2 separate regions of the Homo sapiens genome follow, and region 1 is linked to region 2. Evidence: fine-mapped expression QTL. A gene starts in region 2. The other region holds a variant in brackets. All regions are shown on one strand. Distances are between the middles of the regions.

The links. PIP is the estimated chance that this variant, and not a neighbour inherited with it, causes the effect.
Region 1: its variant is fine-mapped to the expression of ZCCHC18 in whole blood (TOPMed, PIP above 0.99).

What each region holds. Positions count from the first base shown.
Region 1 is chrX:104,194,459-104,211,091 of GRCh38, reverse strand. It overlaps FAM199X (family with sequence similarity 199, X-linked), which reads right to left. Exons shown (of 6, transcript NM_207318.4): 6 at 15,190-16,633. Among named protein-coding and RNA genes, the nearest start is that of FAM199X, 36 kb to the right of the region's middle. The variant AC/C (reference allele first, on the strand shown) is at 11,286.
Region 2 is chrX:104,106,728-104,123,360 of GRCh38, reverse strand. It overlaps ZCCHC18 (zinc finger CCHC-type containing 18), which reads right to left and starts at 10,838. Exons shown (of 3, transcript NM_001143978.3): 1 at 10,360-10,838; 2 at 10,115-10,166; 3 at 7,519-9,927. The coding sequence starts at 9,249. The coding sequence ends at 8,038. All of the region lies in intron 1 of SLC25A53 (solute carrier family 25 member 53), which reads left to right. LOC286437 (a long non-coding RNA gene) reads left to right here. Exons shown (of 1, transcript NR_039980.1): 1 at 1-1,056. RefSeq lists a silencer at 10,888-11,117 and an enhancer at 12,315-12,554.

The DNA.
Region 1 (16,633 bases), 88 kb before region 2:
GAGACCCTAATTCTCTCTCTTCTGGATCTGTCTTTGTAAGTTCTCTTCTGCAAAAGAAGGTAAGGATGCTCAGTCTTCTTCAAATTATAATGGGGTCACCACTCTACTTAAAAGCCTTCGAAAAGACTCTAGGATTCCCCTTGACTTCACAGCCTCCTCCAGCTACCACCTTATTTCTTTGCTCCCTGTCACAGTAAGGTTTCTCAACAGAGTTGTCTCTATACTGGCTATCTTCACTTCCTTGCTTCTCATTCTCTCTTAAACTCACCACATTCTGGCCTCTGTCCATCAGCATTCCACAAAAACTTCTTTTTTTTTTTTTTAATTTTGAGGTCACCACAATCTTCATATTGTCAAATGCAGTGGACCCTTTTCTTCCTCATCTTACTCTCAGCAGCATTTCACACTCCCTCTCTCTAGAAACACTAGCCTGGACTTTTTCTGACTTCTCCTCCTCTCTCCAACATCTGAAATTTGCTGTCACAAGTCTTGGTTGTGAGAAACACTTCTCCATCTGCATTCTCTCCTTATATGATCCCATCCAGTCCTACCTTGAAATACTACCTATATGCTGTTTCCCAAATTTACATCTTCAACCAGATCATTTCTCAGCTTCAGTCTCCTATATCTAATGATCTGTTTGATATTTCCACTTGCATATCTCAAATTCAACATGTCAAAAATGAATCTTTGATTCCCACAATACCCAATTTCTCTTAACTTTTCCTCATCTCATAAGATGTCATCTTTCCATTTCTACCGTCATCCTAATCCAAACTATCATCATTTCTTGCTTAGACTATACCAATGGCTTCCTAGCGGGTCTCCCTGCTTTTATCTTTGCCTTCCTATGATACTTTCTCCATAGAGCAGTCACAATAAACCTGAAAGCCTAAATCGGAACATAGAACTACCCTTCTTAAATACTTCCTTCTATACACACAAAGGGCTTACATGTAGTAGAAAGAATAAAAATTATAAGATAGCGCTGGCATTGTTAAGGATTTGTGCATATGTCTTACTCTTCCTAACAAATGTATAGCTTCATAGATTCGATAGTGCCTTACACATTAGGAATCTGCAAGCTTTTCTGTAAAGGGTGATATTTTAGGCTTGGGGGCCATATGGTCTCTGTCACAACTACTTAACTTTGTCATTGTAGCACAAAAACAGCCATGGACAATAAATGAAGAGGCATGGATGTGTTCCCACAAAACTTTATTTACAAAAAACATGCAGCAGGCTGGATTTGGCTCACAGATCATAATTTGTCAAGCCCTGTTCTAAGTGTCCCGAGTCTTCTGTGATTATATCAAAGAAAAATGCCTACTATGGCAGACATGAAGGTGTACCATTCAGATCTCCCTTCAAGAGAGAAACTAGTCAAGGGGTGCAATTATCTGACAGCCTCAAGTTGCAGGTTGCTTTAGGGTCTGTTCAGTTTTAGAGTCAAGGCCATGTGCTTCCCAGGTAGTTCTCAGCCTATGACTGAACATAATGGTGGTACAATGGCTCACCATTTATGGCCAGCACAGGACAATCTTTACACATGGGTGAGCTTTGCACCAGAGCTCCCTACTTGGCTGGCTGGGATTTTTTTCAGAGCTATGCTGCAATGTGAGGCTGTTCCTCCCCAATTCTCCTTTCTTCCCACTTTCCTTTGTCACGGGTCAAACCTGCATCACAGTCTAAAGGCAAGTAATGTGTTGGTGGCCTGGACTTCAGTGGTAACAACAGTAGTGGTAAGAAATAGTCAGATTCTGGAAAACTCTATAGGTAGAGCCAACAGGATTTGCTGACAGAGTGGGTTTTGGGTGTGAGTTAAAGAAAGGAGTTAGGGGCCAGGCATGGTGGCGCGTGCCTGTATTCCCAGCTGAGGCAGGAGGATGACTTGAGCCTTGGAGGCAGAGGTTGCAGTGAGCTGATGAGCTGAGATCGCGCCACTGCACTCTAGCCTGGGCAACAGAACAAGACTCTCTCTCTCAAAAAAAAAAAAAAAAAAAGGAGTTGCCAAAAATGACTCTATTTAGTGTTTTCTGGTTCACTCATTTCTGCTCCTATTTTTCTTGTTACCTGCCTTATATTTTCTTTAGTTTTATTCTGTTGTTCTGTCTCTGAATTCTTCATTTATACAGTTAATAATCAATTTTGAAGCCTTTTCTCGTTTTATAAGCATCTAAGACTATACATTTCCCATGAGATAATTTAGCTGCGCACCACTTTGTTGGATAGTACTTTCATTTTTATTCAGCTGTATTTTTAAATTTGTTACTTCTTCATTGACCCATGAGTTATTTAGAAGTACATTTTCAAACTTTCAAAGATGTGTTTTTCTCTAATTATTATTTTCTATTGGTTCCAGTTTATCTGCATTGTGGTCAGAAAATGTGCCCTGATGATATTTAAAAAAAAATGTTCAGACATGTTTTAAGGCCTGGTCTGCAGTCGAATTTTGTAAAAATGCTGTGTGGGCTTTTTGAGACTTCTGTAATAATTGGGATTGTGTTCTATACATTCCATTAAATTAGGCTTAGTAATTGTGTTGTTTAAATCTATATCCTTATTGAATTTTTATCTGTTCAATCTAAAAATAGAGAAAAGTGCTTAAAACTCCCACCATAATGTAGATTTGTCAATTTCTCCTGGTAGTTCTGTAAATTTTGCTCTCTATATTTTTGAAACTATGTTGTTAGGCAAATTCAAGTTTAGAACTGCTATATTCTTTTAGTGACTTGAACCTTTTATCATTACATAGTGACAACCTTCTTTATTTTTAGTAATGCTTTTTGCCTTCAGGTCTATTTTGCTTGTTGTGAATGTAGTTTCACCACCTTTCTTTTGGTTATTATTTGCCTGATATACCTTTTCCCGTTCTTTGACTTTCACCTTTTACGGGTCCTCATGTTTTAGATGTGTCTATTACAAAGAGATTACAAAGAGCATTTGCTTTTCTTCTCCCTTAACTTAATCATATAATCTTTTAACATTAGTTGTTTCACATTTATTGTTATTTAAAAAAATATATTTGATTTTCTTTCAGCCATTTTGTGCATTCTATTCATCCCACTTTGTGGGTTTTTTTTTTTCTTTTCTTGCCTTTTTTAGATTTTAAAGATTCTTTTTTCTTGCTCCATTTTTTCCCTTTACAGATTTGGAAGTTAATTACTCTTTTATTTTCAGTAAACAATCCTTGAAATTCAAATTTAAAATAAAAATTTTAAATATTCATTGAAATAAAATTAAAATTTAATGTAATTAAGGACCTTGTATAAGCCCTTAGAATATTTTGACTGCAATCATTGCCTTCTGGCTTAAATGCTCATTTTGAAGCATTTTATTGAAATATACATACAGAATATTGCACATTAGTGTACAGCTCACTGACTTTCTACAAGTAGACTACATTATTTAACTAACCAACAGCCATCTCAAGAAGTAGAAAATTACCAGTTCCCCAGAAGGGCCCCTTAAATACCCTTGTAGTCATTACAGGCATCCCAGACCCATAAAGGTAACCACTATCCTAGTCCTAGCAACATAGTTTTAATTTTCTTTTAATACCACGTACTATGTACTCCTTTGTATTTGGTTTATTTTGCTCAACATCATGTTGGTGAGACAGATTTATATTGTTGGGTATAGTTGTAGATAATTCATGATCAAGATTGTATAGTATTCCATTGTGTGAATATACCCTGATTAATCTATCCATGCACCTGTTGGTCATTTGATTAGTTTCCAGTTTGGGGATATTATAGTATTGCTATAAATATTCTAGCATATGTCTTTTGGCAAACATACACCTTTCTCAGGTAGGAGACTGCCAGCCCTTATTTTCCAGTCCGGACAGGATGAAATGAAAAAACCATTAGAAACCAGCAGATGGTAACTAAAGTGATCCTGAGCTGCCCTCATTGCTCATTAGCACCATGACAGTTTACAAACACCATGGCAACAACCCAGAAGTTACCATCTCTTTTTAGAAAGTTCTTAATAAGACATCCCCTCAATTTGCATTAACCCACCCCTTAATTTGCATGTAATTGAAAGTGGGAATAAGTGAGTATAAATACAGTCGCTAAGAGCCCATACATTGCTGACTGTGGGTGCACTGTCTACAATTTAGCCCTGCTCTGTGAGGAGCTGTGCTGTTTAATAAAAGACTGTTGTCTAATAAACTGGGTTATCTTAAGGTATTAATTTGCTGAGTTATGGGAAATTTTGCTTTTAATGGTATAACCAGTGCCTTTTGGAGCTTCTTGGATTCATGTCTCAGAGGGTCAACTGTTGTCTCACTATTCTCTGCTCTCTTCTTTTAAAAATGCTGGAGATGATGGCTCTCTGTTTTAGCTTTTTTGTCAACTTCTGTGACTTTTTCTCCTCTTGTTCTGACTTTTGTCGTGGCCTGATACTAAAGTGTTTTGTCTTAAAGGTCTGTGAGAGCAGTGGTTTCCCTCAGTATTGCTTGATTCTATGCTTTTAATTTTTCCTAATATATAATCTTATTTTTGACTTTTAAGTATTGACTCTTATATTGCTTAAAAGTGGTTTAAGGGCTAATAAGTGTCTGCCCACCTTCATTCCCGTTCGGCCCAAAACATACATTTATTTATTTATTTATTTATTTATGAGACAGAGTCTCACTCTGTCACCCAGGCTGGAGTGCAGTGGCACCATCTCGGCTCACTGTGACCTCCGCCTCCTGGGTTCAAGCGATTCTCCTGCCTCAGCCTCCCAAGTAGCTGGGATTACAGGTGCACACCACCATGCCTGGCTAATTTTTGTATTTTTAGTAGAGGTGGGGTTTTGCCATGTTGGCCAGACTGGTCTTGAACTCCTGACCTCAGGTGATCTGCCCTCCTCAGCCTCCCAAAGTGCTGGGATTACAGGCACGAGCCACCGCGCCCAGCCCTTAGGACGTTTTTAAATGGCCATACTCCCAGTGGAAATAAATCTTCATTTATTTTTATTTTGATTCATTTATTTATTTTTTGTGATGGAGTCTCACTCTGTTGCCCAGGCTGGAGTGTAATGGCATGATCTCAGCTCACTGCAACTTCTGCCTCCCAGGTTCAAGCAATTCTCCTGCCTCAGGCTCCCAAGTAGCTGAGACTACAGGCGCCCACCACCACACCTGGCTAATTTTTTTTGTATTTTCAGTAAAGACGGGGTTTCGCCATGTTGGCCAGGTTGTTCTTGAACTCCTGACCTCAAGTGATCCTCCCGCCTCATCCTCCTAAAGTGCTGGGATTACAGGCATGAGCCACCATGCCCAGCCGGAAATAAATCTTTCAATAACTATCTTATTTAGACATATTCATACTATACTGATGACAAGGCAGTTTTCTAAATGCACACGAGGTAAATGGAGTTAACACTGCTAAGTGAATGTGACATTTTTGTTGTACTGTGATCATAGATGAATCAACTAAGTAAAACAATTAATCACAAATCAGTGTTACCAGGCTCACTGAGAGACTATTTCTCCCTTGCAAGGCAGTTAGAAGCTCTAAATTTATAAGCTAATCAGTTTATTCTAGCTATAAGCAGACATAAGTATCTGAGTATGCAGAAAATTTGTGGGCAATTAAGCTCAAATGATGATCCCCTTATATATATTTTGGCACATTTTTATCATACGGGTGTTGTGCAGATATATAAAATGACATACATTACAGATAAAATTTGGATAATATAATACTAAGATAACTAGTCCAGAATTTTAATACATGTCAATAAGATACTTAAGAATCACAAATTATCTTCATTTCATCGGCCTTTAAATAGCTTTGCTTTGTTTTGCGATGACTGGAACTTGTAACCTTAGTAAGTATCATTATCATGACCAAAATCATTTGGAAAGGAACAGGGATTTACAAAGCTTTCAGTAAGTACTCCCCGATGGTGTTAGGGTTTTTAAAGTAACCTATTTGAATTGAAATCTCCATTAATCTCAGATTGACAAAGCTATTAATAATATCAAATTAACAAAGTTCTTTACACAGGCACAAGGAACCACAAGGATGTAAAAATGAAAATGTGGACTAGTGGGAAAGACAAATAAACCTTCTTAATTGTAAGGCAGAATGACATACAAGCTGAATAAAGGTACATAAACATTTGAATAGTGCCTAGAAGCAGCAGCCTACATGTGGCCTGTGCTGGTCTATAATGAACTTTTCACTGGTCTGTAGCAAAATGATCAATATAACAACGTAGAAAAGTTTCCACACAGCTTCTTTAGATTATGTCCTTCCTACTTTCTTGGCATTAAAATTAGCTTTCTTTTAATGAAATGCATATTGGTTCCCTCTTCTGGGAAACTGAAAACCTATGCAAAATAATGTAAACTGTGTAGACTGGGTGTGGTGGCTCACACCTGTAATCCCAGCACTTTGGGAGGCCAAGGTGGGCGGATCACCTGAGGTCAGGAATTTGACACCAGCCTGGCCAACATGGCAAAACCCTGTCTCTACTAAAAATACAAAAATTAGCCAGGCCTGGTGGCAGGTGCCTGTAATCCCAGCTACTTGGGAGGCTGAGGCAGAAGAATCGCTTGAACCTGGGAGGTGGAGGTTGCAGTGAGCCGAGATCGCGCCATTGCACTCCAGCCTGGGCGACAAGAGCGAAACTCCGTCTCCAAAAAGAAAAAAAAAAAAAGAGAAAAGAAAAGAATGTAAGTTGTGTGAAGGCAGAAACTGTATCTGTTTTTCTTTACCACTCATCTCATGGTGCTTAACATAGTGCCTAGTAGACATTCAACAAATATTGCTGAATAAATGAACGAGGAAGCAGCATATGAGTTTTCCTTTGCACGATGAAAAGGATGCAAGAGGAAGTCATTTCATTGTATATTTTTAGTAAATGATGTACTAGTTACCTAGCACTGCATAACACATTACCCCAAAATTTAGCAGTTTAAAACAACACACATTATCTTGCAGTTTCTGTGGGTCGGGAATCGGACATTACTTAGATTGGGTGTTTAGCTCAGGTCTCACAAGGCTGCACTCTTCTCAAGAATCTACTGGGAAGGATCCACTTCCTAGCTCACTCACATGACTGTTGGCAGGATTCAATTCCTCACAAGCTGTTGGCCAGAGGCCTCCTCCATGATTCTTTGCCATGTGGCCCTCTCCACAGAGCATCTCATAGCATGGCAGCTTGCTTTATCAGAGCCAGCGACCGAGAGGACAGAAGAGAATGCCAGCAAATGATTGCATGAGCAAGACAACAATTTTCTACACTGCCTCACTTGTGCTGTATTTTATTGATCAGAAGCAAGTCACTGGGTCCAGCCCACACCCAAGGGAAGGGAATTATACAGGGCATGAATTGCCACAATCATTAGAAGCCACATGAGAAGCTGCAGACCACAAACGCTGAGTAGACTGGTTGGTTTGAGTGTAGAGTAAATGAACAAATGCACTAAGTAAATTGAGGCCAGGCAAACAGCGGAGGCTCTTGAAATGTCCTAAGTTGTCTGAACTTTGTTCTGACCCTTGCTGCCACTCAAAGTGTGGGTCATGGATCACCAGCATTCATATCACCTGGATACTTGCTGGAAACACAGAATCTTGGGGTCCTACCACAGACTTACTGAATCAGAATCTGCATTTTAACAAGTACCTATGTGTATTAAGGTTTAAGGAGTATTGCTCTAGATCCTGAGGAGAAAACAGCTCTGGTGGTAAGATTGAACATGAAGGTAAAGGAGGGGGAGGAATGAATCAAAGATGACTAAATTTTTTGAGGATACCTAATAAGAATTTGGTCTGATCAGGGCATTAGGAGGTCTACCGAAGAATATGACTCATCCTCAATCAGTGGCTCCCACACTTATTCTGCATTAAAATCTCCTAAAGTCTTTTAAAAAATGGTGCTCAGGGCCAAGCATGGTGGCTCATGTCTGTAATCCCAGCATTTTGGGAAGCCGAGGCAGGAGGATCATTTGAGCCCAGGCATTTGAGGCTAGGCTGGCCAATACAGCGAGGCACTGTCTCTAAATAAAATGGAAAAATTAGCCAGGTGTGGTGGCTTGCGCCTATAGTCCCAGCTACTCAGGGAGGCTGAAGTGGGAGAATTGCTTGCCCAGCAGATTGAGGCTGCAATGAGCCATGATCACACCACTGCACTCCTGTCTGGGTGACAGAGTGTGAGCCTATGTCAAAATAAAAGAATCAAATGGTGCTCAGCTCCTTAGAGAAATGGCTAACTCTAGGGCTGGGGCATCGTGTAGTGCCAGAAAGCAAAGAACTGCTCAAAATTCAAAAGGATGAGGGCAGGTCAAAGGGACACTGGAGCCAAGCTTTAAGAATTTCTAATGTCCAAAGCTGGAAAAATTTGAGTAACAAAATAACAGTACTTGGTTACAACCCAAAGTATAAAATAAACATCCATTAATCTGTCCTGACATGAATGACTGAATAAATAAATAAAGGCTGGGTGCGGTGGCTCACGCCTGCAATCCCAGCACTTTGGGAGGCCGAACTGGGCGGGTCACCTGAGGTCGGGAGTTCGAGACCAGCCTGGCCAACATGGTGGAACCCCCTCTCTACTAAAAATACAAAAATTAGCCTGGCATGGTGGTGCATGCCTGTAATCCCAACTACTTGGGAGGCTGAGGCAGGAGAATCGCTTGAACCTGGGAGGCAGAGGTTGCAGTGAGCCAAGAGCACGCCACTGCATTCCATCTTGGGAGGGCAACAGAGCAAGACTCCGTCTCAAAAATAAAATAAAAATAAAAATAAATAAGTAGGCAGAAGAAACAAATCTTTCATATGGAAGAATTCCAAATAATATATGTAGATATTCCATTCTTCAGGAGGTGGAGCCTCCTCTCCCCTTTGAGTGTGGGCTGGACTGAATGACTTGCTTCTGGAGAACAGAGTACAGAAAGGGAAAAATAGTACATTACAATGAAGAAGTCTGGCAAACACTATCTTAGCCAGGTGATAAAAGTTAGCATAACTAGTGTTAAACCATGTTGACAGTATATCTTTGAGGTGAAGAGAATGGCACTTCATTTTTATGGTAATCTTCCTTAAGTCCCCAAATCCCAGTCTAACCATGAGAACATCAGACAAACCCAAATTGAGGGGTGATACTCCACAAAATACCTGACCAATTCTCCTATTGGTCAAGATCATGAAAAGCAAGGAAAGGGCCAGGCATGGTGGCTCACACCTGTAATCCTAGCACTTTGGGAGGCTGAGGCAGGCAGATCACTTGAGGTCAGGAGTTTGAAACCAGCTTGGCCAACATGGTGAAACTCTGTCTCTACTGAAAATACAAAAAAGTTAGCTGGGCATGGTGGTGGGCGCCTGTAATCCTAGCTACTTGGGAGGCTGAAGCAAGAGAATCACTTGAACCCGGGAAGTGGAGGTCGCAGTGAGCCGAGATCCCGCCATTGCACTCCAGCCTGGGCGACAAAGCAAGACTCCATCTCAAAAAAAAAAAAAAAAAAAAAGCAAAGAAAGGGAAGACTAAGAAACATCAGGCACCAGAGGAGGATAAGGAGACATAAATGCAAGGGGATCCTGAATTGGATTCTGGGATATAAAGAGGAGATTAGTGGAAAAACTAGTGAAATCTTAATAAAGTCTCTAGTTAACGGTAATGTACTAACATTAGTTTCAAAGTTTTGGCAAATGTACTATAATTACATTAAGATATTAACATTAAAGAAAACTGGGTGAGAGGTATGCAGGACATCTCAGTACTATCTGTAACAACTTTTCTGTAAATCTAAAATTATTCCAAAATAGAATGTTTATTATAAAACAATAAATACCCAGGCCTCACCTTTGAGATTCTAATTTAATTTGTCTGGGTGAGGGACAGGGAACATCAGGCACCAGTATTTTCTCTTTTTGTTTTTTTGAGACAGAGTCTTGCTCTTGTAGCCCAGGCTGGAGTGCAATGGCATGATCTTGGCCCACTGCAACCTCTGCCCCCTGGGTTCAAGCAATCCTGCTGCCTTATTCTCCCAAGTAGCTGGGAATACAGGTGCCCACCACCACGTCTGGCTAATTTTTTGTATTTTTAGTAGAGACGGGGTTTCACCATGTTGGCCAGGCTGGTCTCAAACTCCTGACCTCAGGTGATCTGCCCACCTCGGCCTCCCAAAGTGCTGGGATTACAGGCATGAGCCACCATGCCCGGCCTGGCACCAGTGTTTTCTAAAAGTTCCCGGATGATTCTGATGTTCAGCCAAAGATACACTACTCTATATCAGTGTTTCTCAAATCTAAATGTCCATCAGAATACTCTGGCAGGCTTATTGAAACATGGATTTCTGGCCAGGTGCGGTGGCTCATTCCTGTAGTCCCAGGACTTTGGGAGGATGAGGCGGGCAGATTGCTTGAGCTCAGGAGTTCCAGACAAGCCTGGGCAGCATGGGGAAACCCTGTCTCTATGAAAATACGAAAATTAGCTGGGCATGGTGGCACATGCCTGTAGTCCTAGCTAGTTGGGAGGCTGAGGGGGGAGGACTGTTTGAGCCCAGGACGTTGAGGCTGCAGTAAGTGGTGGCCGCCCCACTGCACTCCAGCCTGGGTGACAAAGTGAGACCCTGTCTCAAAAAACAAACAAAAAAACACAGATTGCTGAGCCCCTCCCCCAGAACATCTCACTCAGTAGGTCTAGGCTGGGGCCTGAGTGTTTGTACCTCCTACAAATTGCCAGGTGATGCTGATTTTGATGGTCCACATACTGGGACCACTGTTCTATACCAAAATCTTAGGGTGGTTTCTCCCAGTTTCTTGGTGTGAGTTGTACAAGTGTGCAAACCACTGTGAAAAGTAACAGCATGACATATGCAGCGTGATACACCTCCAGAGACTTGGATTCTAGCCCTTAATCTGTCATCAACCAGCCATGTGATCTGGATGAAGCACTTTACCTCTCTGGGCCTCAAGTTTCTCATCTGCAAAATAAAGAGACTGATTTAATGACCATTAAATCAAAAAGCCTATATCTCATTCAAATTTTCAGATGATCAACTAGCTCTGTTATCTCGGATTTGGTAAGTGATTATGGGAAATCTAACCCAATATTTCTAAAACATTAGTGAAAGATTTCTCTAGAGTACATTTTATGATTATAAAGCAATGAAAACTCTTTTAAATCAATAAGCCAGAGCTAATACATCCAAATTAGTATCACCCCATTCTATGTCACCCTGATACACCTAGTCCAATAATGCTGTCTTGCCCAAGATATTTCTGGAACTCTAGTATGTATCAACACCAGTTTTAAGGCCACATACACACACACAAAAAAAA[AC/C]AGCGTAATTACTTTAAAAATTATACCTCATTGGCCAAATCCAGAAATTTCCAGATTTCTCACTCACATCAACCACCAGACAGCTTCCAAATGACCCTTGGTTATTTTCAAAAACCAAAAGTGCCCTAAAAACACAATGTTAGTCATTAGGGGGAAGGAAATTCACTTGAGAACTTGATAAAAGATACAAAACCCTCCCTAGAAAAACATATCAGCAAACAAATTTTGCCAATAATTTTGATCGCTAGACTCCAGGTTAGTAACTTCTGCCCTAGAAAGACAAAAGATTTACTACTACCAAGAAAATTCACATATGCAGAGGAGACTCGAAAGAAAGCTTCTGGAGCCAACTACTCTGAAGGGAAAAAACATATAAAAGCACTGGATTTGGGGTAAGTCACCTCAAGATTTAGATTTAGATTTGGCTGTATCACTAACCAGTTTTGGGCAAAGAAGTAACTTTCCTCCTAGTGTAAATTTTCTCATTTGCAGGGAGGGAGAAGAAGGGACTGAGCTGCATCAATAGTTCTGTGTGTTCACTGGATGAGCAGCATCACATAGGACCTGTTTTAAAAATGCAAATTCCCAAGCCCCACCCCAGACCTACTCAATCAGAATCTCTGGGGGTGGAGCTTGACTATCAGTGTTTTAACAAGCCCTCCTGGGGATTCTGATCCACTGCTCAAGTTCGAAAACCAAGACAGATGATCTCCAAAGTCCTTTCAAGTTCTCAAATTTTATAATTTATTTGAAAAGTATACTCTGGTAAGTTAAAATGCAAAACAAAAACCAATAGTCTCTGTTTTATCTGTTAAAAAAGATTTAATTTCTAATAAATAAAAGGTTAGAAATGTCTATTTTTCCTTATATTCCCCATGGGATCCTTACATTTTTTTTTAAAATAAATACTAGGTATTTGAATCTGTTACATGTGGGCCGATTTCAGCTAAAAAAAAAGAAAATTATTAAGCCCAGAGGTAAGGTGGGACAGAAAATACCTGGCTCAGCTTATCTTGAACAGTTACTTTCCTGCCTGCTACTCAAATTATCCTGTGGCTTTAACAACAAAGTAGTGAGGAAAACAACTGGAATGTTTTTATCTAAGAATAATAGATACCTCACTTTCAATTAAAATGTGCTCAAGACACCATCAGGACCTATCAAGTAATAGTAAAAATAACTATTCTACCTTGGTGCTAGCAAAATGCAGAATGATTTTGAAATTAACACAAATGGTTATAATCTTGATGATTTTGAAATGAACACAATGGTTATGATTTTGATTTCAAATAGGTAGACCAGATATTTGATATTACAGAACTATTTTTATTTATAAATAAACAAGGTATATTTAAATAAATAATAAATAAGGAGGTATGATGATGGTATCATAATTATATATAAAATGGGAAGGCTGGGTGTGGTGGCTCATGCTTGTAATCCCAGCACTTTGGGAGGCCAAGGTAAGAGGATCACTTGAGCCCAGGAGCTCAAGATCAGCCTGGGCAACACAGGGACTCCATCTCTAAAAAAAAATAAAACAATTAGCCAGGCATGGTTGTGCACATCAGTGGTCCCAGTGGTCCCAATACCTTGGGTGACTGAGGAAGGAGGATTGCTTGGGCCTGGGCCGAGGCTGCAATGAACTGTGATTGCGCCACTGTACTCCAGCCTGGGTGACAGAGTGAGACTCTGTCTCCAAGAAAATAAAAGTGTCCTTACCTTTTAAAAATCATATACTGACATGTTAAAAAATGAAATATGTCACCTGGGGTTTGCTTTAGTATCACTGGGAGTTGAGGTAAGGTGAGTGGGTAGGTGGGAGTAAAAGACACAAGATTGTCTGTGAGAAGAGTTGAAGTAGATACAGGTATGTGTGGATTCATCTTACTGTTCTCTCTACTTGAAATTCTTTGTGTGTTTGTTTTTGGAGACAGGGTCTCGCCCTGTCGCCCAGGTTGGAGTGCAGTGGCGTGATCTTGGCTCACTGCAACCTCCGCCTCCCAGGTTGAAGTGATTCTCCTGCCTCACCCTCCTGAGCAGCTGGGATTACAGGTGTGTGCCACCACATCTGGCTTTTTTTTTTTTTTTGTAGAGACAGGGTTTCGCTGTGTTGGCAGACTGGTCTTGAACTCCTGACCTCAAGTGATCTGCTCACCTTGGCCTCCCAAATTGCTGGGATTACAGGCGTGAGCCATCGCGCCCAGCTGAAATTCTTTATAATACAAAGTTGAAAATACATAAATCCAATCTAAATACATATTTTTAAGATAAAAAAGCATGTAACAGGATCCTGGTAACCAAAGGAATAAACTGGAATGTTAAAATGTTTGCTCATTACAAAGAGAAGCAACACTATACCTAAATCTAGTATCTATCAACTTATTACTAAGAAACAAGGATACTGTAATACAAACATCTCACTTACCATGAGATCCAAACTGATGGTGAGAGGGCAGAGGATTGTCCAACTCAAGTAACAGTGACTATGAAGGCTCTCACAAGAATTATTAAAAAACACTTTGGGCCGGGTGCGGTGGCTCACGCCTGTAATCCCAACACTTTGGGAGGCCGAGGTGGGTGGATCACCTGAGGTCAGGAGCTCAAGAACACGTTGGCCAACATGGTGAAACCCTGTCTCTACTAAAAATACAAAATTAGCCGGGTGTGGTGGTGGATGCCTGTAGTCCCAGCTACTCGGGAGGCTGAGGCAGGAGAATCGCTTGAACCCGGGAGGTGGAGATTGTGGTGAGCGGAGATCGCACCACTGCACCCCAGCCTGGGCAACACAGTGAGACTCCATCGCCACTCACCTCCCTCCAAAAAAAAAAAAACAAACAAACACTGAGGGGATGATTCCGAAATTCACGTTTCTACTTATTTGTAAGCATAGTTTTAAACAACTGGAGTCTTCTAAAATGTATTCAGTTCTGTGTCACAGCACTGTCATTTATAATTGCTTTTTTTTTTTTTTTTGCATCGAAGGACTAACTCACAGAGAAAGCTGCATGGCAGCACTCTGCAACTATAAAATCTGTGAAACTGGCCCAAACTTCTCACATTATTCAAACATTAAATCTTATTCATAGTCAAATGAAATGGTCACTATGATAAATTTCTCCACTAAACCACCAAGTTCTCAAATTTGGTAGTGGCTTTAATGAAGCAGAAAATGAAATACAGGCTGGGTACAGTGGCTCACACCTATAATCCCAGAACTTTGGGAGGCCAAAGCAGGAGGATTGCTTGAGCCCAGGAGTTCGAGACCAGCCTAGACAAAAAACATTTTTTGTAGAGACCTTATCTCTACAAAAAATTGAAAAATTAGCTGAGTGTGGTGACATGTGCCCGTGGTCCTAGCTACTTCGGAGGCTGAGGTGGGAGGACCGCTTGAGCCTGGGAGGTTAAAGCTGTTGTGGGTTATGATCACACCACTGCATACCAGCCTGAGTGACAGAGCGAGGCCCTGTCTCAAAAAAAAGAAAAAGTTTAATCTCCCTCTCACACCAATCACCTACAACAGTTAACTGTGGGCAGCAGTTTTTTAGCCACTAATTACTGTTCACTGATAAAATGATGATAATGATCACTACATAAACCAGCAAATCTCTAGAGCAGCACTGTCCAACAGAACTTTCTGTGATGATGGAAATGTTCTACATCTCATGCTTTTCAATACAGTAAATAGCCTGTAGCCACATGGTAGCTACTGGATACTTGAAGAATTGCTAAGGAGACTAAAGAACTACATTTTAAATTTTACTTAACTTTAATTCATTTAAATAGACATATGTGGCTAGTGACTACCATAATGGATAGTACATTATGCACTGCCCATTATGGTAGTCACTAGCCACATATGGAGCTCTAGAGTACCTAAGAGAAGAAACACACACACGCACATTTCACTTAGTATCTAACTCACATTTATTAAAAATTGAAGATTACAGAAAAGCATAAGATTGGCATCATTAAACAAGCTTAATTAACTTACCTTTGACTAATAAATGAAAATATTTAATAACACTAAAGGAATTTTGAGAATAAGTTCTATTCCAACCTTAGAAATTAAAAATAAAAGCAAAGCAGCTATTCTCCAAAGGAGAAAGCAACCACAGATCTCCCTCTAGTGGCAAAAGATAAAGTTGCTGCTGAAAAGCTGAATTGCTCCTCCATACATAGAACTGCTCAGACATTTCTTCTATAAAATTCTAACTTAAGATTCTAAATCAATATATAAGGAAAATAGATCTATTTTTTGTCAAAAAAAATTAGACCTACTGCCCAGTAATAGCATGGATTAAAAAAATTAGACAATTTTCACTTACTATGAATGCTAATCTCTCTAGAAATCTGCTCTCTCTAGAAATCTGATCTGTCCAGAAAAAAAAATAAGTTTTGCCAATGACATTTGGGTATCTGGGGCTTTCACCAAATAAAAGTTTATAAAGCCATAACCAAACTGTGAGAAACAGAAAAGGGAGCAGTTCTCCTCTGTTGGTAAATATTCTGGGATAGAGCATGAAAGGAGCTGACTCAGAAGTATAAAGTAGTAAGCAGCAGTGAGTGGGCTGTGTAACAACTCAGGGTACATCAAAAGAAATAATATATTATAAGAGTTCTTAACCAAAACAACACTTTTCATTCTGGTATTCAGTTTCAAAAGACAGCTCTGCCACATTGCCAGTTTTAATTACAACCATACACACTCATTTAGATTTCACTACTGAACTACTTTCAAGTACAAGAAGGAACTCAAAATAGAAACGACTTATGATACAACTATTGTTATTCCCTCACAGCTTCAGGGAAAACAGGCTTTATATACACTGTAGTAAGTACAGAATGTACAGAAGACAGTTATATATACAAAAGTGCATTAATATAGTAATATATTTAGCAGTAATACAGGAAAAAAAAATCCTGGTTAACAATCTGATACATTACAGTATTTAAAACTACTTGAAGATTCTCCAAACCAGTCAACTTCCTACTTGCTTTGGTTATGATATTGCTGCTACATAACTAATCTTTGAAACTAAAAAGCAAAAACAAAAACCCACAATTTGAAATTTTTACCCATATGTGAATTGTTTTGCATATACTTGTTTACCATTAATAGCCTTTGACAATAGTCCTTAAATTCCCAACACAAAGGTTCAGAATAGATAATACTTGTTAAGTGAGAGTACTCAAATAGGAAATTAAATGGATCCACTACAGGAACAGACATTATCTGCTCCATTGTTAAAAGCCTCAGCTAGATAACCTAACCACAAATGTCAATTTCAGTCTCAGTTTAAATCCAATAGGTCAGCTACTGTTAAAAGAGCCAGCAGCTCCACAA
Region 2 (16,633 bases):
CTCAGCTAGGTCCAGAGAGCCTCACTCACCTCCCCAACTAAGCAAGCATCCCTGGAGGTATGTTCTTCATGCAAGGGCAGTTCCTGAGAGAATTTATTTGGTTAGCTCATAAAGGGATTATATTGTTTTCCCCTGCACATGAGAGAGAGTAGCTGAAGTCTACTGACTTTAATGAAATTCTCTGTGAAGAGTCTGGGAGGGACGGTTTAGGTAATCCATCTACAAGGGTGCTCAGAGAGTTTGGAGCGAAGCGATTGGTGTCGTTATGATGGCATTCTATGGCACAGTAGTTACAGTGCACCAGGCACTCTTTTAAAGACTTCTCAAGTGTTCATTCATTTAATTCTTACCACAACCCTGTGAGGGACTTCCTGTTATTGTCTCCGTTTTACTGGTGAGGAAGCTGAAGCAGAGAAGTTAACTACTTTGCCCAAGTTCCTTTCCTCCTTTGAGGATAAGGAGCCAAAGGTTCAGGAATGCCCAAATCACATCCCTCTTCTTGTCCAACCACCCAACCTCTCCACAGGCAACCTGATCAGCCACCTTTATACAAAGTACAGTATTCAGATTGGAATAAAAATATATCTCCTTGACTCCCTGCTCTGAGAGGTATTTCTTCTCAGACTCCCAAAAGCTGGATTGAGGAACATGGCTTAGTTGGTACAGTATAGCAAAATGTCCTGCTTGTTGAAACTGAATTTGTGATTATCTTCTTTTTCCTCAAGAAGTCATTGAGGGCTGTTGTATCCCTATAAAAGGAGAATTTAGAGTAGCCAAATAAAAGGGGGCTGAAGTAGTCTCATTACGGAAAAAGAGAGTGTGAGCAGCCTTTTAGTAATTGATTGCCTCAAGATGTGGTATTCAGCCAGGGTGAAGGGAAAGTAGTTGGGGCTGTGGATCTGGAGGTTTACAGAAGCCTTTACCCATCCTGAGACTCAGTTCTGCTGTTGGTCTTCAGAGAAGTGTCTGCACCTGCTGAGAAGAAATCACACCACTGCACTCTAGCCTGGGCAACAGAGCGAGACTCTGTCTCAAAAAAAAAACAAAAAAAAAAAACAAAAAAAAGAAATCAGACATCTAAATATGTACAAAAAACTAATAAACCTCTGGAAAAATGGACTCAGAATAAAGACATATACAAATAAAAAATATTTGGAATGCGTACTAAATGCCACTGAATTGTACACTTTAAAATGGTCAAAATGGTGAATTTTTTGTAACTTTTACCACAATGAAAATTTTGGAACAAAAAGGGGGGATAGAACTATGGGTAGAATACAGAAGAATCAGGCCAGGGATGATGGTTCACACCTGTAATCCCAGCACTTTGGGAGACTAAGGCGGGAGGATCACTTGAGGCCAGGAATTTGAGACCAGCCTGGGCAACAGAGTGCGATTGCCATCTCTACCAAATATCTATGTTCATATATATATATATATATATATATATATATATATATATATATATATATATATATATATATATCATACCATTTGATGTGATGTCTAGTAATTGCTTTAAAATACTTCATCAAAATGTGGGGGATGAGACAAATTATGCAACATATTGATAATTCTTGAAGCTGAATGATGAGTACATGGGGATTCATCATTCATTTTCTATAATTTCATGTGGGTTTGGAAAGTTCCATTGAAAATGTTAAAAACAACCCGCTCCTCCTGCCAAATCATTTGAAAACTTAATTTGGGGAGTTTCTTAGAGCTGAGTTGACCTTTAAATATTATTAAGTATTAAAGTCTCTAGTAGCTCAGAGTTAAAGGGTATTCCCAGCAAGTTTAAGAGATGAGGAAGGGCCCTGAATGTGAGCCAGAGCTACTAAAGTAGGATGTGCCACAGGCCACCTCTCTTTCTGCTCTGGTTCCTGTGAAACATAGTGCTTGTTCCAGTAACGTCACCTCTAGGAATGTATCCTCAGGAAATAATCGTTCACATGTGCAAACCTGTATGTGAATAAGGATGCTTTTCTCAGTGGGTTTATAACAGTGAAACAAGGAAACAAGGTAATGAATGGCTCTAAAGAGGCTGGTTTAATAAATCATGGATACAAGTAAATAATTGGATTTAATGCAGTTATGAAAAATAATCTAAACACCTTGGACCTCAGTTGCCTGGTTTTTAAATGAAGAAAGCCAAAGAAGAATTGTATTCCTCAACTAGTTTTAGGAGGCCAGCAAACCTTTGATACCAAAATCTCACAAAGACATTATACAGAAAGGAAAATTACAGGTGAATCTCTCTTACAGACATAGATCTAAAAATCCTAAACAAAATATTAGCAAATTGAATCCAGCAATATATAACAATTGTAATAAATCAGGACCAAATCTTGTTTATTTCAGGAATGCCTGGTTGGTTTATTATTAGAAACCCAAATAATGTAATTTAGCATTTTAACTAATAAATGAGAAAAAAGCATATATAATAGATACAGAAAAAGCATTTCATAAAATTCAGCATCCATTGATTATTTTAAAAACTTATGGTAAATTAGGAATGGAAGGAAACATTTTTAAACTGATAAGTGGTATTTACTAAAAACCTGCAGCAAGCATCCACTTAATGTTGAATTGCTCAAAGTGGTCCCTTGAGTTCAGGAATAGGACAAGAATGTCTCTTCTCACTAGTTGTACTCTAGGTCCCAGTCGATGCAGTAAGGTAAGAAAAAGAAATGTATATGGATTGGGAAAGAAGAAATAAAACTACCATCATTCACAGATGACATGCTTGTGTATGCAGAAAATTCTAAGGAAGCTACAGATTAAAATTATTAAGAGATTAGCAAAGTCAGTGTACAATATCAACATCAAAAGACCAGTTATATTTCTATATACCATCAACAAGCCCTTAGAAAATGAAATTTAAACCAATATTTAATTTATAGTAGTATACACAATTACCTTGAACTAAATGTAATAATAGACGTACAAAACCTCAAGCAAAAGTTATGAAGCTTTGTTGACAATGTCAAGTGTTTGTGAGGATGTGGAGCAACAGGAACTCTCAAACATTGATGGTGGAAGTGGGAATTGGTACAACTTTGATATACAGTTTGGTGGTATCTAGTGAAGTTGAAAATATACACAATCTATGAGCCAGCAATTCCTCTCCTACATATATACCTTGTGTGTGCACATATGTACCAGGAGACATTAAAAACATGTTCTTAGCAACATTTTTCATAATTGTCCCCAACTGGAAACAGTCCAAATGTCCACCGACAGTAAAAGGATAATTTCTTGTAAAGTCGTAGAATGGAAAGCTGTAACACAATACTGAGAATGATGAACCGATGCCGCATGCAACCAGGTTGAATCTCAGAAGCATAATTGTAAGGGCAATGAGCTGGATATAGAAGGATATATGCATTATAGTTCTATTTACATAAAGCTCCAGAAACAGTAGTGTTTGGGCATCTATATTTGAGTGGTAAAGCTATAAAGGAAAGTAAGAAAGCAACAGCTAAAACTGTCATGAGAGTGTTTTGTTTTGTTTTGGAGAGAGGAAAGAGGTTGTGATTGGGCAAGGACTTATGGGAATTTCTGGAGTTCTGATCTGTTCTGTTTCTTGATCTTTATGGTGATTTGCTTTATAATAATTTGTTAAGCTGTAAATTTATATTTTATGCACTTTCCTCTGCTCCCCCCGCCCCCCGCTTAAAGAGTGTTTTAGAATGTGGAAATTTTAAGATAAGATCTATCTCAGGGCTTGTTGTAAGAATGAAATGAAGTATAAAGCCATGTAGAGCTTGTAGAATATGCCTGGCACTTTGTAAGACCTTAATAAATGTTAACTATCTAAACACAATACAGATTTGCTGTTATTATTGCTTCTCTTATTTGTTGCCAGCCCTGCCCCCTTTCCATGATATTTGTTGCCAATGTTTCTCAGCTTACTGTTGGTATTTTATTTCTGTTAATGCTGTCTTCTGAGTTATCAGTCTTTTCTTTTATACTTTCTTTCATTACTCTTAACCATAGAAAGTTCTCTCCAACCCAGAGGTTTAACATGTATTGTGTTGCAGCTTTAAAAGGGGTTGCTTTTGAACATTTGATTCTTTTTATTCATTTTATAACAAAATATACGATTAAAGAAGAATTAATACATAATTGCATAAAATCTACATTTACTGCTCAAATGTATCTGGGATTCATATTTAGTGTCATGGGAGAAAGGAAACTGACCTTTTTTCCAATCAGGTAATGAAGTTCCCCCCAGCACCATGAATTGAACAATTTATCTCTCCTCCACTCATTGTTGCAGCTGTCTCCTCTTGCATACATCAAATTCAAAACCATTTGCACCAAAAGCATAGACTGGAAACTTGATACCTGAACTGAATGTGATAATGCAACTCTGAAGGGGGAGGGGATGGTTGCCAGGCAGCAGGAAGGATAGCTGCAACAAGAGGATGTGAAAGAAAGGTGGCCTGTGTCACACAAGTATTCCTTAAAGGCTGCATCCTTGTGTATGGCGCACAAGCCACTTGCTGCTATGATATTTGGCTAATTATGTCTGTTGACCTTGCTTTCCTCATGTATCATCTTTATATAATAGTAACACCTACCTCATGGGGTGCTGTGCACATGATGGCTAACTCAAGTAAGGAACACAGACTTTGGGATCAGTCAGTCCAGTGTCTTATCCTTGACTGTACCACTAAATAATTACATGACCCTAAGTACGTTTCCTAACTTCCCAGCCTGTTTCATCATCTGAAATATGTGTCAATTAATAGTAATTAAATTAATAGCAAGTTAGAAATAGAAAGTCATGCTTATCTTAAGGGAGTTGCTATGAAAAGCTAATAATGCATTTTAAAGGCTTGGCACTGGGTGCCTGGCATGTAATAAGCTTGGAATAAATCGCACTTGCAGTGATTTTAATTTTTATTGCTATTGTGGAAGGATCAGGAAGGGAAAGAATATTCGGCAAAAGACACTGAGAAGTAGGCATCAAAAAGATCTGGGAGAGGGAAACCATGAGATGGATGTCATGGAAACAAGGGAAAATAGTATCAAGAAGGAGGGAGATATTGCAAAAGGAGGTCATTCAAAGGCTGGTTTCTCCTGACAAGACAAAAGAGCAATTTTCATCTCTTGGCGACTAATGAGAATGAAGGGAGAAAGGAAAGGAAAAACAATAATTATAAATGAAGGGTATCAAACACAAAATTTTTTAAAAGCCTTCTTTCACTTAACCCTGTAATCACTCCAAGTCTTCTTTGTCTTCCAATTAGGGAAAATACATACTTCTTGAATAAAGGAAAGCCAGTGTGACACAAAATGAAATAAAAAGTCTCACTTTTGCATCATTTTGGTGAAGTAAAAATTTAGACAGTTTCAGGTTTACACAACAGAGGACAGGATGGGGGGGAAGGAAAGGGGATGAATTACACAGCAGGGTTTCAAAGTAATGATCTTGAACCTCCAAGCTAACTCCAGTGAAAAGGAGGATGGGGGTAGGTGTAGCATTTATTCCTCTTTTCACTCTACCTGGTTTCAGAAAGAAATTATGACAGCATATCTAGGTAAATCATTCAATAGCATTTATAGAGTGAATTTGAGAAAAGGTGAGCAGCAAGGGGAACTATATTCTAATCTTGGAGAGATGAGTGGGCAAATCCCCTCCAAGGATAGACTTTGGGAGAGGTAGGGAGGAATAGGGGGCTGTAAGAGCCAGGTAGTGTTGGGGGACCCTGTGGCTTTGGGGGCTTGATGAAGCTGCCTCCTGCGTGGGTGGTGGGGTCCTCTTTGCCTGTGGTGAGATGGAGGTGGCTGCCAGGAGCCAGAGGTGCCCCAGAGGGATGCAAAAAGTGGGTCTCTTGGACCTTTACTCCTGCTCAGTTCTCAGCTAAAAGGTCAGAGGCAGAGGGGCCCTCCCAGTCTACTGGCCATGAGCATTAAGGAGGCTGAGGCTTAAGGCCATCATGGAATGCGGAGGAGGGGGAGGTGGTGATGGGCAGAGCACATGAAGCTGAGCCTCCATCTCCCTCCACCAAGAGGTGAGTGTGGCTCCAGGGAAGGGGAGTGGTGGTAAAGTGAGACTGTGATAAAATGGATGGAGCAAGGGGGATAGGAATGAGATTGCGGGGATATGGATGAAGCAGGGGGGATCTGAATGAGATTGTGGGGATATGGATGGAGCAGGGGGGATATGAATGAGATTGTGGGGATATGGATGGGGCAGTGGGGATCTGAATGAGATTGTGGGGATATGGATGGAGCAGGGCGGATAGGAATGAGACTGAGGATACAGATGGAGCAGGAAGGATCTGAATGAGATTGTGGGGATGTGCATGGAGCAGGGGGGAACTGAATGGGATTGTGGGGATATGGATGGAGCAGGGGGGTATGAATGAGACTGTGAGGATATAGATTGAGCAGAGGGGATAGGAATGTAATTGTAGGTATATGGATGGAGCAGGGGTGATAGGAATGAGATTGTGGGGATATGGATGGAGCAGTGGGGATAGGAATGGGATTATGGGGATGTGGATGAAGCAAGGGAAAGGGCCCAGGGAAGAGCAGAGTTGGAGGTGATTCTGGAAGGAGAGCACTCCAAGGTGGATTCTGGGCCTGGCAGCCCCGGGAAGGCTGCATTGGGCTCCTTGCAGTGTGTGGCTTCTACTCCTCCCTGGGGGCCTCAGCCTAGACCCTTTTGTCCCCATCAGCCTGCTAGCCTAATTAGAGTCCTAACCTCCACTCCCCCTACAACATAGCCCAGGGTTCTGTGTGAAACCTGTGGGTCTGCAGTTTCTGCCAGGCCTCCTGTCCCTGTCACTGTAGATGGGAGCCCACCAGCTTGGCCATCATACCCCTCCCCCTCTCCCCTGTCCTCCTGTCCTCCACCTACATAGCTCTGTGCTCCTTTCCCTGAGGTGCCAGCTCTGGCTGCTGCACACCCTGTCTTGTCAGCCCAGGGACCCCCTCTTTCCTCCCAGGCAAACTCCCTCAGGTCCTCAGGTCTGCATTCATTTCACTCCACTCCTTGCCTTAAATGAAATCATTCCCCCCTGCTCCTTGCCAGTTTTGACCTCTTCGTGAAGATAGGGACTACTGTACCTACCAGAAACTTGGGACCCTCAGGGATAGAGGTCACATGTCATCTTTTATCACCCTCTAATCTGAGGTCAAGAGATCGGGCAGGAGTAGTTGTCCCTTCCCAATACAAACAGGAATGGAGCCTCTGGAATACCCATTTTCAATTTTTGTCCCCCCCCCGTTCCCCATCTGATGTCTCATGATATGTTCAAGAAGAAAACATTGGAACATTATTAACTCATGGGTGCAGGGGTTGGCTCTATGACCTAGGAGACAGGTCAGTTGTGTTAAGGGGTTGTATGGGAGATATTCAGTCCATTTCAGCTTCCTTTCTCCTTTCCTATAAATGAGGTCGATAAAAACCCCTCCTCATGGTATGACCCCCCCTTATAGCTTCTATATTTAGTTTCATTTTTCTTTATCTTTCTAAAAGTAACATCACACAGAGACATGAAGTTAGATATTTATATATATTCATCGACATAGAAGTCCACGAGATACATTATTTGGTGAAAAATACACAGTATAGAACAGCACTTATATTTGGTCACTCTTATCTATACATATATCTATCTGGGTACACAGGTACAGGGAGATATCTGGAAGGACATTCACCAAAGGGCTGACAATGGTTACAAAAGGGTGCTGAGTTTCAGGTAATTTGTACTTTAGTTTTTGTATCTTCCTTTATTTTTGAAGGTTTAATGAAAAGATGCTCCTTTCATAAAAAGTATAAAGTCATCAAAGAAATAGACACATGGAGAATAGACCCTTAAGCCAGCAGAGAAGAGAGCAGGGACAGAGGTCACACCATTCCCCATCCACTGTGCTGGTATGCAAGACCTCTTCTCCTTCCCAAAGGAAAACTGCTTTGTGGATTAATTCATGCAGTTAGAAACCCACCCCCCTCTCCTGTTATTCCCATTACCAGACTCTGAATACAGTCAAGGACTCATTTAGGGCTGGACTAGATCCTTACTGTGGCTCAGAAGCATCACTGTGTTCTCCAGGGACCTCTTTTGACCTCTCCTCTGTATGTGTCAGCTCCTGCAGGGTGATGATCAGATTCTCAAAAACCTGGGCCTTGTTGCTCTCATTGTCACAGGTTTCTTTTGAGTGGCCCTCCTCCCCACAATATGAGCAGCGGGTTGTGTATTTTCGCTTCCTGGCTCTACGAATATTCCCAGGACCATCATTCTTATACCCAGAACCACCACTGGTAGAAAGAGACTGAGCCCCAGAATTGTTGGGGGAATCAATAACCAGCACTTGATCCAGAGGTCTGGCTCTTCCTCTGAAGGGAGGGGCACCTGTAGGTGTCAGTGAAGGGTACAGAGACACCACCAGGATCACATCCTCATCAGAGTCATCAAGGGTATCATCTATTTCTATCACGTTGCAGTTACAGTCAGCACTGCTGATTGCTATTGGCTGGGCGCCCTGAAATGCCACAGGGCTGGCTGCCCTCTCCATTATTGGCTCAGACCTTTTCGGCCGCTTCCGTTTAATAAAAGCATCATCCCAATCCTCTTCCTCCCTTATCATCTTGATTAACTCCAGGAAATTGGGAAGCCGCTCCTGCTTATTTGCATACATCCTGAGAAGATGCTTAAGCCTGAAGCGCAGGTCCCTATTCAGCTCAGCGCCTAAAAGAAGCTGTTGCAAGCGAGTCTGGTTTGCATCTTTCTCAGCTAGGATGCCTGCCTGAATAGCATTCTGGAGCTGCACCTCTAAACGGATCACATAAAGGGAGGCTTTCTCCCCTTGTGCCTGCAGGGTGTTAAAAAATTTACCATGGGCAGTCACACTGCTTTCAGACTCCCCAAACACCAATTTCATTGCCCGCAAGAAATCTGCTACACTTAGGTTGGGGTTGGCCGCCTGAAGCAAACGCATGACCTCCCGGGCAGGGCCCCTAAGTGTTTTCATCAAGCGCTTGAGTTTTTCCTCCTCAGACATACTCCAATCTGGCAGGACCTCATTGACTTGGATCAGCCAGTTTTCAAAGGTTTCTTTCCCCTGGGCTGGCACCACTCTTCCTGAGAACAACTTCATGTTTCTCTCTGCCATTTTGACCACTAAAGGACAGAGACTCCTCCCCAGAGACCTCAACATGGAATGGGCCCAAGGCGGCAAAGGTGCATTCTGCTGCCTGCTGTTACCCACACACGCAGTGATGCTAGCCATGACTGACGACGATAGGGTATCTGAATACAACAAGATGCTCGCGCTTTTTGGAAAAGCCTTATCTGCAGGATTCTCCAAAGCAACGTTCCTGGGCTGTGCCTGCCTTATATTTCAGTAGGGATTCTAAGGAAAGTAAAAAAGGTTAATAAGATAGTGGGCTGTGGGGAAGCAGTCTGCAGTAGCATTCTCTATCTTCCTGAATAGCCTTGCAGTGCATTTTATATCTGCCCAGTGCCTTAACAATACCCTGCAGGAGACTGGCAATTACAACATTCCAGAGCTAGCAGGTGTCCCTGGGCTAGTAGGTAGTTTTTCAGAGCCACATCCATCCCCTCCTGCCTGTACTCCAGGAGGGGCGACAACTGTTGCTTCTAATTCTAGATGACATAGTGTTGGGAGCTGATACTGGGCCCTCAAAACGGAACTCAATGGTTGTGTGTCACAGATTTATGATAATAAGAAACCATTAACCTCATGGCCTCAGGTCTCAATCACACCCCCTTGTCAACGTTTCCCCCGTTATTTCTCAGATTCTTACATGAGCTCGGAAACTAGCGTTCGCCTTTATTTTACGTGCAGCCTCTGCAACAGGTGCCTGCCGTGAGAAAATTAGCCTCTGGGGTACGGCCGACTTTTGTCCACTGGGTGTCGCAGATCCCAGTCCTCAGGGCCTCAAGACTGTGCCGCGAAGGAGGGAAAGGAAGGGTTGGAAGCAGCTTCATCTGAAAACCTGATACCTCCCCTCCACCGCCTCCACTGTCGCCAGGCGGAAAATTCCCTCTCCCATCTTCTGAACGCAAGCCAAAGTGCCTCCTGCCCTCCCGCGCATCCCCCTTACATTTCCTCCGGGAGACCCTCGCCCTACCAGCTCTGCAATCCGCCGCACAGAATTCAAGTTCGGATTCGGCTTTGATGACCTGCCAGGGAGAAAGAGACTAGAAGTTGGATAACCTCCCACCCTCATATTCCTTCCCAGGAAGAGATGAGGAGATGCAAAAGGGGTTCAAGACAGCTTGCGATCGTCTCCTCCCGCCCCTTGCCACCTCCCCGAACACACCCCGCCCCCGACACCCAACAACACCCCCGACCTACGACAACACCCCCACCCACCTTAATCCAGGCAAATCCTAAATCCTATCCAGTCGGCAGCATCCAGATGAACCACAACTCCTTCCTCAGCGCAACCAGGCCAAGGGAGTGCTCCATCCCCTGCCTCGCAGTTACTGATTCTCCAAGCCGGGCGCCGCCCAGTCCTGGCGGGGCTTCCCCCACCCCTCTCCGCGCCGGGCAATCGCGCGTTCTTTCTTTACTTGTGCTCCACTGGTGGGCAGCATGTGCTCCCGCGTCCACAGCTCTGTTTCGCCTTCCGGTCCCCGTAGCTCTGCAGGGGAACGGGATCTCTGCCGCCTCCTCGGCCGCTAAGCGACCCGGGGCTGCCCGACCTAGCGAGTGCGCACGACCGCCCAGCGAGGGGTAGCCGAGTCGAGGCAGCACGGTTCCCAAGGCAGCCAAGGCTGCGCCCACCCTCCAGTTCGGCCCTCCGGGCAGCCGCGGTTGCTTTCAGTCTCTGGCGACTGAGACAAAAGAGCGTGACGGGCCGGGCGACGCGGCCAATCAGCGGGGCGAGGGGGCGGCCTCGCCGCACAGCCTCCGGCCCCGAAGCTACTGCTAGCAAGAAGGGGGAGCGGGCCGGCTGGCCGGCGGGCCGGCGGGCGGGGGCTGCGGCAGACAGGCGCGGGAGGCGGCACGGCGTCAGCAGCTCGGACGCACGGACTGGGCCCATTTCCCTTTCATCCGTGAGTTTGCTGCTAACCCATCTCTTCCCTTCTCCCTATCCCCTTACACCTCGGCTCTCCTCCGGGCTTTTAGACCGGATACCTTAAACACGAGGTGGGACAGAAACCAAGTGAACAATGAGAGTTCCTCACCTTTGTATAGGGGGAAGCGGGGAAACAGCGTTTACTGAGTGCTTTCTGTGTGCAGAGGCGCCTGCATGGACATCTCCTTTCCTCTTCTCAGCAGCCGTGTGAAGGAGGTAGTAGTGTGCCCATTTAACAGGAAAGGACTGAAGCACCCAGGCAGTACAGTTAGGAAGTGCAGAGTTAAGAGCTCACACCCAAGTCACCATGTCTGACTTCAAAGGCTGCCCCTTGCCAGCACTCCTCTATTCTGTCAGATTAAGGGATAGTGGAGAAAAACCAAAGCCAGATGGGAGGACCAACTTGGGATTGCATAGAATTGGTGAGCAAGAACCATTATCTCCATTTCACAGATGAAGAAACTGAGCCAGAGAGAGACAGGTTACTAGTTTTGGCCTGTATCCTGCAGCAAATAAGTTACAGCATCCAACCTAGCACCGTCTGTTGCTCTCTAGATGCTAATTCGTTGCCCTGCAGCGCTGCCTGGAGAGTATTTTTGCACAGGTAGTCTCAAACCATCTCAACAGCAGTCTCAATGTGATAATAGTGCTGAGGGAGGGGGTGAGGAGGTAGTGGGGAGAGGGCTGAGGGAAGATGAGGGCAACCTTTATGGTGCCCATTGTACAGAAGAGGAAACTCTTCTTGGTACTTTTCTTTCTTTCATTTTTTTTATTAATCTTTTTTTCTTTTCTTCTTTTTTTTTCTTTTTACACAACAAGCTGCCTGTTTTATAAAAGCAACATAATTTCGACAGCCCTTTGTGACCCCAAAGAGGCCAGGCTCAGAGAGGTAAAATGATTTGTCTGAAAATACAAGGTGAAGCCAAAATTTGAACTGAGTCTCTGAATCCAGAACTCATGCTATTAACCAAAGTGTGAGTACAAGGTGAGCTGCCTCAGAATCATTTTGGAGAGCTTGTTATAAATGTAGATTATTGGGCCTTACCCCTGGGGGATTTTGATGTAGTAGGACTAGGGGTGAAGAGTGTGATTTGTAGTTTTAACCAGCCCTGTAGTTGATTCTGAGGTGTAGAGAGATTCATGAACCACTTTTCTAAACACCACCACGTGATGCTGAAGGTTATAAGTAAATGGGCCTGCCATCAGTGTATCTGTCCATGGCATATCTGTCATGAAATGTAACTCCAGAGCACAGGTTCCTACCCGAGGTCCTTCCTGGAATTGTATGCAAAGAATCTGGACTCCGTACATTCTTCTGAGCCCACAGCTTTGCAGATTTTCAAATGGGTCTGTCATAACGTCTTCCTTCTTCAAGCCATGCTTGATGAAGAAGTGTGAGAAATAAAACCCCATTTAACCTAACCCCCAAACCACAGCTCTCTGTTGCTGATATGGCTCTTTCATTTCCTGGCTCAAGGACAGGTTGCTAGGTTGCCCTTCTGTGAGCTCTTCAGGGTACTTCTCCTTTGCTGGATTTGGCATCACTGGCCCCAGAGAAGGAGCAACTCCATGGAAACGGCATGCAGGGCTGTCCAAAGTGAATGGCCATGAAGGCAGTGGCTGGAAAACCTGCTCCATTTTTCCCTGACTTAGAGAGCAGGTATTACTTCCTTTATGTATAGTGTGGCTAGGAGGCTTCTGTGGGGCTTGTTCTTGACTCCTGATGTTTAGAAGCAAGTAAACAGTCTGATGCCCTTCCGCTGCTGTTGGCTTCATCTTCAGTCTGCCAAGGTACTTCACTTGCTCCTTTCCGCCCTCTTATTTACAACCCCAAGATCTAGAGTTCCTTGGAGTAAACAATAAAAATTTGGAGATAAGCACCTTCCATCTCAGGATCATGGTCTGTGGATGGAACAGTGGGGTAGTGGTGGTGGAGGCTGGAAAGTGTGGATGTATGGAGAAGGCAAGTTGCTCACCTCACACACTTAGGGGTGATGCTGGCAGTTGCTCTTAGGTTTCCTTCAGACTTTTGCTTCTGCTCCCCCATCCCGTGACATCTGACCCTTACCTCCCAGAAGAGTCTTGTTCAGTGTTTAAATTGGCTTTATCACCAAATTAGGTATTTGCAGCTGGACTTGGTAGGGATGGAATCACATAGGACCAAGAATAGGTGTCAGAGCTCAGACAAAAATAATGACAGGAAATGGATTGTGTAAAGGTGCCAGGGTTGGGCTACTAGAACAAAGCGAGGGACTCTTCATGCAGGGATGGGGGTAGTATTTGCAACCTGGCTTCAATTGGATACAGGACATGGCCTCACATGTATGAGTGTGTTCCAACTGATGCCTCTAATGAGACCACATTTTCTAATTTCAACAAATAAACCTTAAAAGCTTGAAGGTTTGGAGATAAAGCTTTCAGTTGAAACAATAATAGCTGCCTTTGGCTGCCTGCCTCCTTTGTGCCAGGAACTTTCTGTCTGTTATCTCTTTTAAGCTTCTTATCAACCCTGTTGAGACAGCTATTGTATCCCATTTTGCAGAAAGGGAAACTGAATTTCAGGGACATTAAGTAACTTGTGTCAGGCTTCACAACTTGTAAGTGGAGGCACTGAGACTGCAGGCCAGGGATGTCGAACTCCAAAGCCCATGAAAACTCTTCTTTGCTGCCTTCCAAACAAGCAGTCCAAAATGCATTCTGTAGATAACCCAGTTCATTAGACCAATTGCAGCCTTTAGAACAATTTAATTGTTATCTTGCCTTTATTCCTATTATCTCATTTTTAAAAAATGAAACTGCTAATATAACTTATGAAGCAACTTATATACCAGGTGCTGTGCTAAGCACTTTCCATACTTTGTCTCATGCATCCTTCATGACAATCATTTTACATATAAGGATACTGAGGATCAGCGAGATGATGAAACTTGGCCAAGGTTATAAAGCTAGGAAGTGACAGAGTGAAATTCAAACCCAGGGCTGCCTGTATCCAGAGCCCATCTCTGTGCCCTACAACACAATGCAGCGGAGAAGACAAATGTGGTCCTCATCTTAAATGGGCTTCTCTCTGTCAACCACAGCTCTATTTCCTTCTCACCACATGGGGTAGGCCAGCCCCATGCACAACTCACACTCTTAAGCCTATGTGCCTTAGGCCACTTCCTCAGCCTAGAATGCTTGCCCTCACTCCCCTACCTAACAACAGCCTATTCTACTCTACTCAATTAAGGATTGAGTCATATGCCCCTTCTCAGGTGGAATAAATTGCTGTTGTCTTTTTGCTTCCACCTTCATTACTGTACCCTTTATTTTGTCTTTCTGTAGAGTTTAGCACACTGTTGACCTGTCTCCCAAGCTAGTTGACTAGATTTCTAAGCACTTGAGGGCAGGCACCAAGTTCTATTCACTCTAGCTCTATGGTGGTTTACCCACAATGATTTAGTGGATGATCAATACATGTTTGTGAGCAGACCAAAGGACTGGCTGAGAGATGCCCTGAATGAACAGACAAATGCATTCATTTGTGGCTGGATCCTGGGGCAGTCACACAGTCTACCCATGTGGACTAGACTGGCTGGGAGAGTCTGGAATCCTCTGGGCTCATTTTACTAGGCTGTAAACATAGGAGGCAGGTCATAGGGTACAGGTGATATCTGCTTAAGGCCAACTCTAGGTCCATTCTGTGGTCTATACTTTGAATTCATGTGAAGGGGCCAGGCTCTCCTAGATTGCTTATGTTGCACCTTCCTATTTGTGGAAGTAAGGGCTTCCCTGCCTCCCTTGGGAACAGAAGATTTGTTCCCAAATGCCCCTGTATCTGGTTATGGCTGTCCCGAGAGCATCCAGAAGGAGCATGCGTTCTGTGGAGACAGATAGTGAAGTCCAGAAGCATCTTTTTTTGATCCTTCTTATCAAGGCCACCATGTTATGGATTCTCAACCACTTTGTCTCATTTTATGTTATTAATCTCTGCCACAACGTTTTGAGGTGGATCTTAATACCCCTGTTTTGTAGCTGAAGAACCTGAGACTGAATGAAATGTCTTTTCCAAGGTCACACAACTAAGTGGCAGAGGCAGAATTCAGTCTCGGGTCTGTCTGCCCTTTCCAAAGCCTGGCATCTTAACAGAAAATACATGGGAGAAACACGAACTCCCCTCCCATAAAATGGAAAGGATTGGATTTATAAAATGGATTACATATTAAGGTTAGATGTTTCTCAATTATTGTTCACCTTTATTCCCCCAAAATGATTTACAAAAATGGCAGAAGGAGTTGGGGATTGAAAAGTACAATTCCTCTATCAACTATTGACCTGAATGCCCAATATCACCCCCCTCTGACAGATACAGTATGGAGATGACTAAAAATTATTTTGCCCTTTCTGCTCCATTTACAGCTCAGATGGGTAAGGCTCCAAGATGTCACTGAATTTCTAAAGGTCACACATCAAGTTGATAATAAAACTCACTTAGAATGCTGGTATCTCATACTACCCCACCTGCTTCCTGGCCTTTCTGGGGTAGGTGCGATAGTTGGGAGTCCTTGCACTGCCAAATCCTAGCCCAGTTTTCTTTCTGCTAAATCATCCTGCCTCATGGTGTCAGTGAACATGTTTATAAATGGTAGGGAGGAAATGGAACATTATTGCACTCTGAGGTAGAAGAAAGGACAAATATTTACTTCACCACCTGTCCTTATTTAGGTGAAGGTAAGACTTTGGAAAGAAGATCTTTGATAGGAGAGCTGAGGACTGTTGGGGGCTTCTGTAGATTTAGCAGCCTGGGTATCTGGGAGGAGTCCCCTTTGGCTCTGGAGAAATGGAAGTGGGGCTTCCAGGGGCCAGAGGTGGCCCAAAGGGATGCAAAGAGTGGGCCTCTTGAGTTTTTACTCCTGCTCAGTTCTCAGCTAAAGGGTCAGAGGCAGAGGGGTCCTCCCAGTGTACTGGCTATGAGGGTAAAGGAGGCTGAGGCTCAAGGCCATCATGGAATGTGGGGGTAGGGGGAGGTGGTTATGGGCAGAGTACAGGAGGCTGAGCCTCCATCTGCCTCCACCAAGAGGTGAGTGTGGCTCCAGGGGAGGGGCGTGGTGGTAAAGTGAGATTGTGAGAAAATGGATGGAGCAAAGGGGATAGAAATGAGAATGTGGGGATATAGATGGAACAGGGTGGGGTTATGAATGAGATTGTGGGGATGTGGATGGAGCAGGGTGGTATGAATGAGACTGTGGGATATGGATGGAGCAGGGGGGATAGAATGAGATCGTGGGGATATGGATGGGGCAGGGAGATAGGAATGAGATTGTGGGGATATGGATGGAGCAGGGGGTATAGAATGAGATTGTGGGGATATGGATGGAGCAATGGGGATAGGAATGGGATTGCGGGGAGATTGATGGAGCAATGAGATTGTGGGGATATGGATGGAGCAGTGGGGATAGGAATGAGATTGTGGGGATATGGATGCAGCAGTGGGGATAGGAATGGGATTGTGGGGAGATGGATGGAGCAGGGAGAAGGGGCTAGGGAAGAGCAGAGCTGATGGGAGTGATTTTGGAAGGAGTAGTA